2 linked regions of the Homo sapiens genome follow. The protein of the gene in region 1 binds, or shares a complex with, the protein of each later gene. Each region holds a gene or a part of one and is shown on either strand. Other genes may lie near its edges. The genes, in order: CAPRIN1 and G3BP1.

What was found.
Region 2: the proteins of CAPRIN1 (region 1) and G3BP1 are in contact, whole or in part, in a crystal structure (PDB 8TH7), measured with the Homo sapiens proteins. Residues at the interface, in NP_005889.3 of Homo sapiens: Met363, Gln365, Met366, Gln367, Gly368, Pro369, Tyr370, Asn371, Phe372, Ile373, Gln374, Asp375, Ser376, Met377, Leu378; in NP_005745.1 of Homo sapiens: Glu4, Lys5, Pro6, Ser7, Leu10, Val11, Glu14, Phe15, Arg17, Gln18, Thr21, Leu22, Met29, His31, Arg32, Phe33, Tyr34, Gly35, Lys36, Gln58, Lys59, His62, Leu114, Glu117, Asn122, Lys123, Phe124, Tyr125.

What each region holds. Positions count from the first base shown.
Region 1 is NC_000011.10:34,089,535-34,093,454, forward strand, and holds part of CAPRIN1 (caprin-1), read left to right. Parts: intron 1-644; coding exon 645-755; intron 756-994; coding exon 995-1,144; intron 1,145-2,371; coding exon 2,372-2,522; intron 2,523-3,920. UniProt on the Homo sapiens protein: mRNA-binding protein that acts as a regulator of mRNAs transport, translation and/or stability, and which is involved in neurogenesis, synaptic plasticity in neurons and cell proliferation and migration in multiple cell types.
Region 2 is NC_000005.10:151,795,868-151,799,787, reverse strand, and holds part of G3BP1 (ras GTPase-activating protein-binding protein 1), read right to left. Parts: intron 2,562-3,920; coding exon 2,360-2,561; intron 577-2,359; coding exon 475-576; intron 1-474. UniProt on the Homo sapiens protein: Protein involved in various processes, such as stress granule formation and innate immunity. Plays an essential role in stress granule formation.

The sequences.
Region 1 (3,920 bases):
GATGGGAGGATCACTTGAGGTCAGGAGTTCAAGACCAGTCTGGGCAGTGTAGCGAGACACCATCTCTATTTTAAAAAAATAATTAAAAAATATTTTTTCACTTTTGTTTTAATTGGTTCCTTGGTTTCTTTCTTAGCTTATGAAAGAAAATAAGAATTTCATCAGTGTCCAAGTCTTCTGTTGGAATTCAGCAAATTTATTGTTGTGGATAGCTGTCAGCCTTTATTTTTATGTTTAGGTTCATTTTTCCTCTTGATGACTTTTTAAGTTTTTCTTAAGTCTTGCATTTTAAATAATGTATTATAATATAATAAGCCTTTTTTATTTAGAACTGAGAATTTCAGAAGACATAGTTTAGACATAATTCTAAAATTTAGTGCAGATTTCTCCATCTTAGAAGTACTTGTGGAGGGCTTTTATAACGAGACTTGGGTTTATTTAACGTCGAGCTTCAAAAATATATATATTTTTGCAATTTTTAGGTTTTATATTATACAAATTTAAAGAGAGATGGTAATATTAATTTCTCCCTTCTTTAGCAGTTGTATCTATTTCTTAGCCTTATGCGTCTTAGAGGTAACTTGTTTTTTTAACAGTCAATTTTGTAAGCAGGAAGAAGCTTTTATTTCTTTACTTATGTCTAGGTTCCTTTGGTATCATCCACAAGTGAGGGGTACACAGCATCTCAACCCTTGTACCAGCCTTCTCATGCTACAGAGCAACGACCACAGAAGGAACCAATTGATCAGATTCAGGCAAGTTCTGTTACCGGGTCACATACATTTGATGAGGCACTTACTCATGAATTGAACAGATGTACATTACCATTAATATAATGATTCTTCTTTTTGGACCTACTTTGCTTTCATGAAATATTTGAGTTTGTTAATACATATAAGTTTGAGATTAATTTACCACTTTAGTACATCTGTTCACTTTTTGTTTGGCTAAGTTTAGTTTACCGCTAAAGTGCATCTATTCACTTTGTGTTTAGGCAACAATCTCTTTAAATACAGACCAGACTACAGCATCATCATCCCTTCCTGCTGCGTCTCAGCCTCAAGTATTTCAGGCTGGGACAAGCAAACCTTTACATAGCAGTGGAATCAATGTAAATGCAGCTCCATTCCAATCCATGCAAACGGTAAGCAAATTAACTAACATTAATTGCCTAGTATGTAATATGAATCATGGTAGATTTTCTTTTCTTTTTTAAAGGTCTTCATTTAACTGTGCTTGAGTCTGCATCTTTCATTAACTGTAGGGTATATTTAATTGAACATAAACTGATTATTCCAGAGATTAACTGATACTAACGGATATTCTAGAGATAAATTTTAGCCTTATGAGTGATGTGCCTGTATCATCTTAATTTGTAGTTTTACCCTTTTGATTTGATTAACAAAAGCTTAAACATTCAGAGAAATAGACTAATATAACATCCATATAATCATTACCTAGATTTAATAGTTGCCCTGTTTGCTTAATCTTTTATTTTACTGAAGTATTTTGAAGTTTCAGATGTTATGCTTTACCTTGATTCTTGAGCAAGCACCTTTAGAGAATTTCTAGAAAATAATAATAATACTATAATCTGTGGGGTGCAGCTAAATCGGTGCTGAGAGGAAAGTTCATAAGATTAAATATTAAAATAACTTTTGATTAATATGTTAATAAAAATGAAAAAACATTCAACCCTGTTAAAGTTCATAGAACAAACTTCTGTAAGTGGTACTGCATCCAGGAGTTTGTCTTATTTATTTATTTTTTGAGACAAAGTCTTGCTCCGTCGCCCAGGCTGGAGTGTAGTGGCGTGATCTCAGCTCACTGCAATATCCGCCTCCTGGGTTCAAGCGATTCTCATGCCTCAGCCTTTGGAGTAGCTGACACTCCAGGCATAAGCCACCATGCCCAGCTAATTTTTGTATTTTTAGTAGAGACGGGGTTTCACCATGTTGGCCAGGCTGGTCTTGAACTTTTGGCTTCAGATGATCTGCCTGCCTCAGCCTCCCAAAGTGCTGGGATTACAGGTGTGAGCCACTGTGCCAGGCCAGAGTTTGTCTTTTAAAAAGATTTCTCATATATGTAAAAGCATTTCCAAGGCTGCTGATTGCATGTCTTTTTATTTTTTTTAATTCCCTACTTCCATTTCACAGCATATTATACTCCCCTTTAAGTACTATATGGTATATATGTCTTTTTCCACATTGAATCACTTGGAGGGATTTTTGTATGTGTGTGTGATGTTTTTGTGTTTGAGACCTCTGTGATGTCTTTATTTATGTCTGAGGTAAAACCACCATTGAGTTTGGCCATGTTATAAACCAGAGAATAAAAGGATGAACTAATCATTTACTTTATTTACTAACAGGTGTTCAATATGAATGCCCCAGTTCCTCCTGTTAATGAACCAGAAACTTTAAAACAGCAAAATCAGTACCAGGCCAGTTATAACCAGAGCTTTTCTAGTCAGCCTCACCAAGTAGAACAAACAGAGCTTCAGCAAGAACAGCTTCAAACAGGTACGAAATCCAGTGTCACCTCATTGGCTCCTTGCTTTCCAGCACAGTTATTGACAGTGTTAGGACAGTTTAGACTTCAGAGTGGTGGTGTCCAAGAGTTTCTGTTTTAGTAGCAGACCATATGAATTTTTCATTTCAGATCATGAGTTAAATTGAGTCTGTACTTGTATATGTGAATTATGTGCAATTTTTGGAGGCTTTATAGCCATTTTCCTTTTGTCACTGAACTTACATAATATCCCTGTTGCATTGTATAATTTATATGGAATTAAATTTGTTACTTGAATTACCATAAAGTGTACTTTTTTTTTTTTTTTTGAGATGGGGTCTCACTCTGTCACCCAGGCTGGAGCGCAGTGCCGTGATCTCGGCTTACTGCAACCTCTGCCTCCTGGACACAAGCAATCCTCCCTACCTCAGCCTCCCAAGTAGCTTGGGAATACACGCATGTGCCACCACGTCCAGCTAATTTTTTGTATTTTTGGTAAAGTTGGGGTTTCACCATGTTGCCCAGGCTTGTCTTGAACTTCTGAGCTCACGTGATCTGCCCACCTCAGCCTCCCAAAGTGCTGGAATTAAAGGCGTGAGCCATTGCACCTGGTGATAAACTATACTTTTAATTGTTAATTGATTGAAGGCTTTTAGCATGATATCTGGCATTGAGTCAGTTAGACAAAGTTAAGAAAAAACTCATGGTGGCTGCATTTCGTGGACTGGGTTGAAACATAATCTATTTTGTCAAGTAAGGTCATAATTTGGCTAGTTACCATACCTGTCACGATAGTAATGTAGGTAGGGACGCTTTTATGTATTTGAGACAGGTTCTCACTTTGTTGCCCGGGCTGGAGTGCAGTGATGCCAGCATAACTCACTGCAGCCTCAAACTCCTGGGCTCAATGATCCTCCTCCCTCAGCCTCCTGAGTAGTTGGTAGTTGGGACTACAGGTGCTTACCGCCATGGCTGGCTAATTTTTTTTTTTTTTTTGTAGAGATAGGGTCTCCAGGAGCTCACTATGATGCCAGGCTGATCTCCAACTCCTTGCCTTGAGCGAACTTATTGTCTCTGTCTCCCAGAGTGGTGGGATTATGGGCATGAACTACCTTGTCTAGCTCGATAGAGATACTTTAGATTTTTTTTTATATATATATTTTTTTAAGAAATGGGGTCTCTGTCTGTTGCCCAGGTTGGAGTGCAGTGGTGTAATCAGATACTGGAGCCTTTAACTCTGGGGCTCAAATCCTGTACTGGAGCCTTTAACTCCCCACAAGTAGCTTGGACTGCAGGCTTTTCTCAAACTCAGGGCCTCCAGCAGTCCTCCCACCTCTACCTTATAGGCATGAGCCACCATGATGTCTTCTTTAGTTCTTTAATTCCTCAGAATTTAATTGGAATCCCAC
Region 2 (3,920 bases), on another chromosome or scaffold:
ATTCCCTCACAAGAAAAATCATTAAAAACCATCTTATACCCTTCTCTTCCGTCCTATATGTCAGTTCTGTTTCTACATTGATTTGGGTTGGTTTTTTTTTTTTGAGCCAGAGTCTCAGTATGTCGCCCATGATGCAGTGCAGTGGCACAATCATGACTCACTGCAGCCTCAACCTCCGGGACTCAAGCAATCCTCCCACCTCAGCTTCCTAAGTAGCTAGGACTACAGATGCATGCCACAAGGCCCAGCTAATTTCTTATTTTTTGTAGAGACAGGGTCTCACTATGTTGCCCAGACTGGTTTCAAACTCCTAGGCTCCAGTGATCAGCTGGCTTCAGCCTCCTAAAGTGCTGGGATTACAGGCATGAGCCACACTGCACCTGACCAGTTTTCACATTCTCTAAACCTCTGTTGAATCAAATTACCACAATAGAAGTAAATTTGCCTAATGTACAAGTTTTATTAGGACCTTACCTGTGAAGCTGGTACTTTAACAACATGAGGTGGTATCCCAGTAACTGGAACAGCTCCACTGGGTGGAAGATTCTTACTGGTCACAGATGCCCAAGAAAATGTCTAAGGGAGCAATACCAACATTACATAATTATACCAGGTATCAAAACAATATAAAAGCTACTAACTCTTGATTTCCTGTACAGAACAAACGGTAACACATTCTCATAGGCAGGATGGAGTTTATATATATATATTAAGATTCTTCTCTTTCAGCTATTCAAAATTTAGTACTGAAATTCCTTGGGACTGATGATCAAGTACCAAGCAAATCCGAGAGGCTTAGGTTCAAGAAACTACTCACTTTTTTTTTTGAGACAGAATCTTGCTCTGTTGCCCAGGCTGGAATGCAGTGGCATGCACACAGCTCATTGCAGCCTACATCTCCTGTGCTCAAGTGATCCTCCCACCTGTTTCCCAAGCAGCTGAAACTACAGGCATGTGCCACCATGTCCAGCTATTTTTTCTTTTTAGTAGAGATGAAGTCTCACTATATTGACCAGGCTGGTCTTGAACTCCTAAACTCAAGCAATCCTCCTGGCCTCAGCCTCCCAAAGTGCTGGGATTAAATGCGTAAGCCACAACGCCTGGCCCAACAAAAGCTACTTTCATTCAAATCTGTGAATCAAACAAAATTCCCTCTCCTCCAAAATCAGCTCAGCTCTTCCTACTGTGATTCCATCCAATCCATTGTACAAACATCGACTCAATTACATCAATTGTAGAATCATCATAAACACCTTTCTCGCACATTTAAAAATCGCCAGAACCTGTTATTCTACCTAATTATTTCTTTTCCATTTCCACTGCCACAACTCTAATTCAAGCCATCATTCTCTCTCACTAGGGTTACTATAATAACCAACTAAGTGGTCAGCTGGTCCAGCCAACCTACTTTTCCACTTGCTTCTTATGGTTTTGTTCTTGTGACAAGGTCTTACTCTATTACCCAGGCTGGAATGCAGTGGCATAATCATAGCTCACTGCAGCCTTGACTTCCCAGGCTAAGCCATCCTCCTACCTCAGCCTCCCAAGCAGGTGGGACCACACATAGGCACCACCATGCCCAGCTAATTTTTTCCACTTGCAAGCTAAAGTCATTTCAACATTGCTCTTTCCTACTCACCTATTAGCTGCCAGAGAACAAGAACCCCTATCTGTTTTGCCAATATAAAACCTACACTTTGAACAATGCCTAACACACAGCAGGAATTTGAATTATTGAACAAACAAATGACATAACCCTGAGCCTATAAACACAGCACTAAAAATTATATTCCTTTCCAGAGCACCAAATGCAAAGGTTTCAACGATAGTTCAGTTAACAATCACCCTGACGAGACTCAGAAGGACAAACTGAAAACTTCTGAAATCAGGTATGCCAACTAGAAAAGAAGTTTTACTTCAGCAGTTCATTTCTACTTCCACTATAAAGTTATCTTCAATAAAATTTCATAGAAAAAGTATATTCTGCCATGTTATTTTTCTTGAAAAGATGTTATGCACTTGTAGTAACAAGTATGTAATAATTTATAGTGTAAAAGATTAAATATTAAATAGAAAAGGAATCACTGATAGGGTGCTACAGTGGCACCTAAAATTTCTGGTCTAACAGGCATTCAAGTTACCTCGGGGAAGGGAGTGGTTTCTTTTGATGAAATAAACTAATACACATCTTACCTCTCTCTTATCAAACATATGGCTCAATATCTAAGAAATTTCCCTGAAATGAACCACCAATATGAAAATGTATCTACAAGTCAACCAAACAGCAATACAAAAGAACAGAAACTTTTTTTAAAAAAAATAACTAGGAATAGAATAAAAATGAAGACACGTTTCATACCCTCAAGTCTTCCTGTACTGTCTGAGCTATGTCTGCAGGTGCTGGAGAAGAACTCTTCTGAGCATCCTCAGGGGCAGTTTCTTCTAATACTGGCTCAGGCTTTTCCTCTTGGATTTCAGATACAGGTTCTTGTTCTGGTTCTGGTTCAGGATCAGGCTCTGGTTCAGCAACAGGCTCCTCTAAATGTTCTTCCATGTCATTACTTTGACAGGAAAATTTGAGAAATATCATTCTGCCACCATTTATTTCACAAAAAATTCCTCCATCATTTATTAATCAGAAACCAGAACACAGAGTTAGCTCCTTCTATCCAAAACAAAAATCTAAGAATTGTATATCTATCTGAGTTTTTAAAAAGTAATTTTTAAAATGCCACTCAATAACTTAACTGGAATCCATTTGTTTGGCAAATTCTGATAAGCAAATGAATCAGGACATCAAAATGAACCAAACCACTTTATGGCTGGAATCCCACAACTATTACAATTCATTTAGCATACAACATCAGAAAAACTCTCAAAATAGGCTGGGGCGGGGGGGGCGGGAAAGAAAGTTGCCATTCAATGGGTATAGTCTGTTTATAAGGTATATAAAGTTATCTTCAATAAAAGTTGTAAGGTGAAAAGTCCTAGATATCTGTCATAGAACCACATCTATACAGTTAACACTACTGTACTTTACACTTAAAAATGGTTAAGATGAAAAAAAGGTTAAGATGGCAAATTTTATGATATGTGGCTTTTAACACAAACACACAAAAACTCTTTCAAGCACATAAGGAATTTGGGGGAGAAAATAGTTATGATTCAGAATACAATTCTTAAAATTCCACATAAATCAACCAGAAATGCTGTTAAAACTGCAGAGGGGGCTGGGCACACACCTGTAATCCCAGCACTTTGCGAGGCCAAGGTGGGCAGATCACCTGAGATTAGGAGTTCCAGACCAGCCTGGCCAATATGGCGAAACCCCATCTCTACAAAAACACAAAACTTAGCCGGGCATGGTGGCGTGCGCCTGTAGTCCCAGCTACTCAGGAGGCTGAGGCAGGGGGATTGCTTGAATCCAGGAAGCGGAGGTTGCAGTCAGCCAAGATCGCGCCACTGCACTCCAGCCTGGGTAACAGAGCAAGACTCTGTCTCAATAGAACAAAAACAAACAAAACTGCAGATGTTTTGCCTCCTGAAAGTCTAATTCGGTAGGTTTGCAGTGGGACCATGAATCTTCATTTTCAACCAGCAACCCAAGTGAGTAACCTGATTAGTTCATCACACCTTAAGAAACACTTGAAAACACCCTTCAGGCACTGAATATTAACATTCAGTATCACATGGTAACAAGTAAATATGGATTTCTATTGCTATCAAACACATTTCTGTTCTAATCACAAGGGGGAAAAAACCCAAAGGTATAATGATGCACTTACTAACGTAATGAAATTCTTTATTGCTACTTAACTCACATATTGGTATTTATATCAATTTATGCCCGATCTCTAATTAAATAGGTCTCTGTCCACTTCATATTCCCTCAAAGCATTTAATACCTCAATACATTCAAC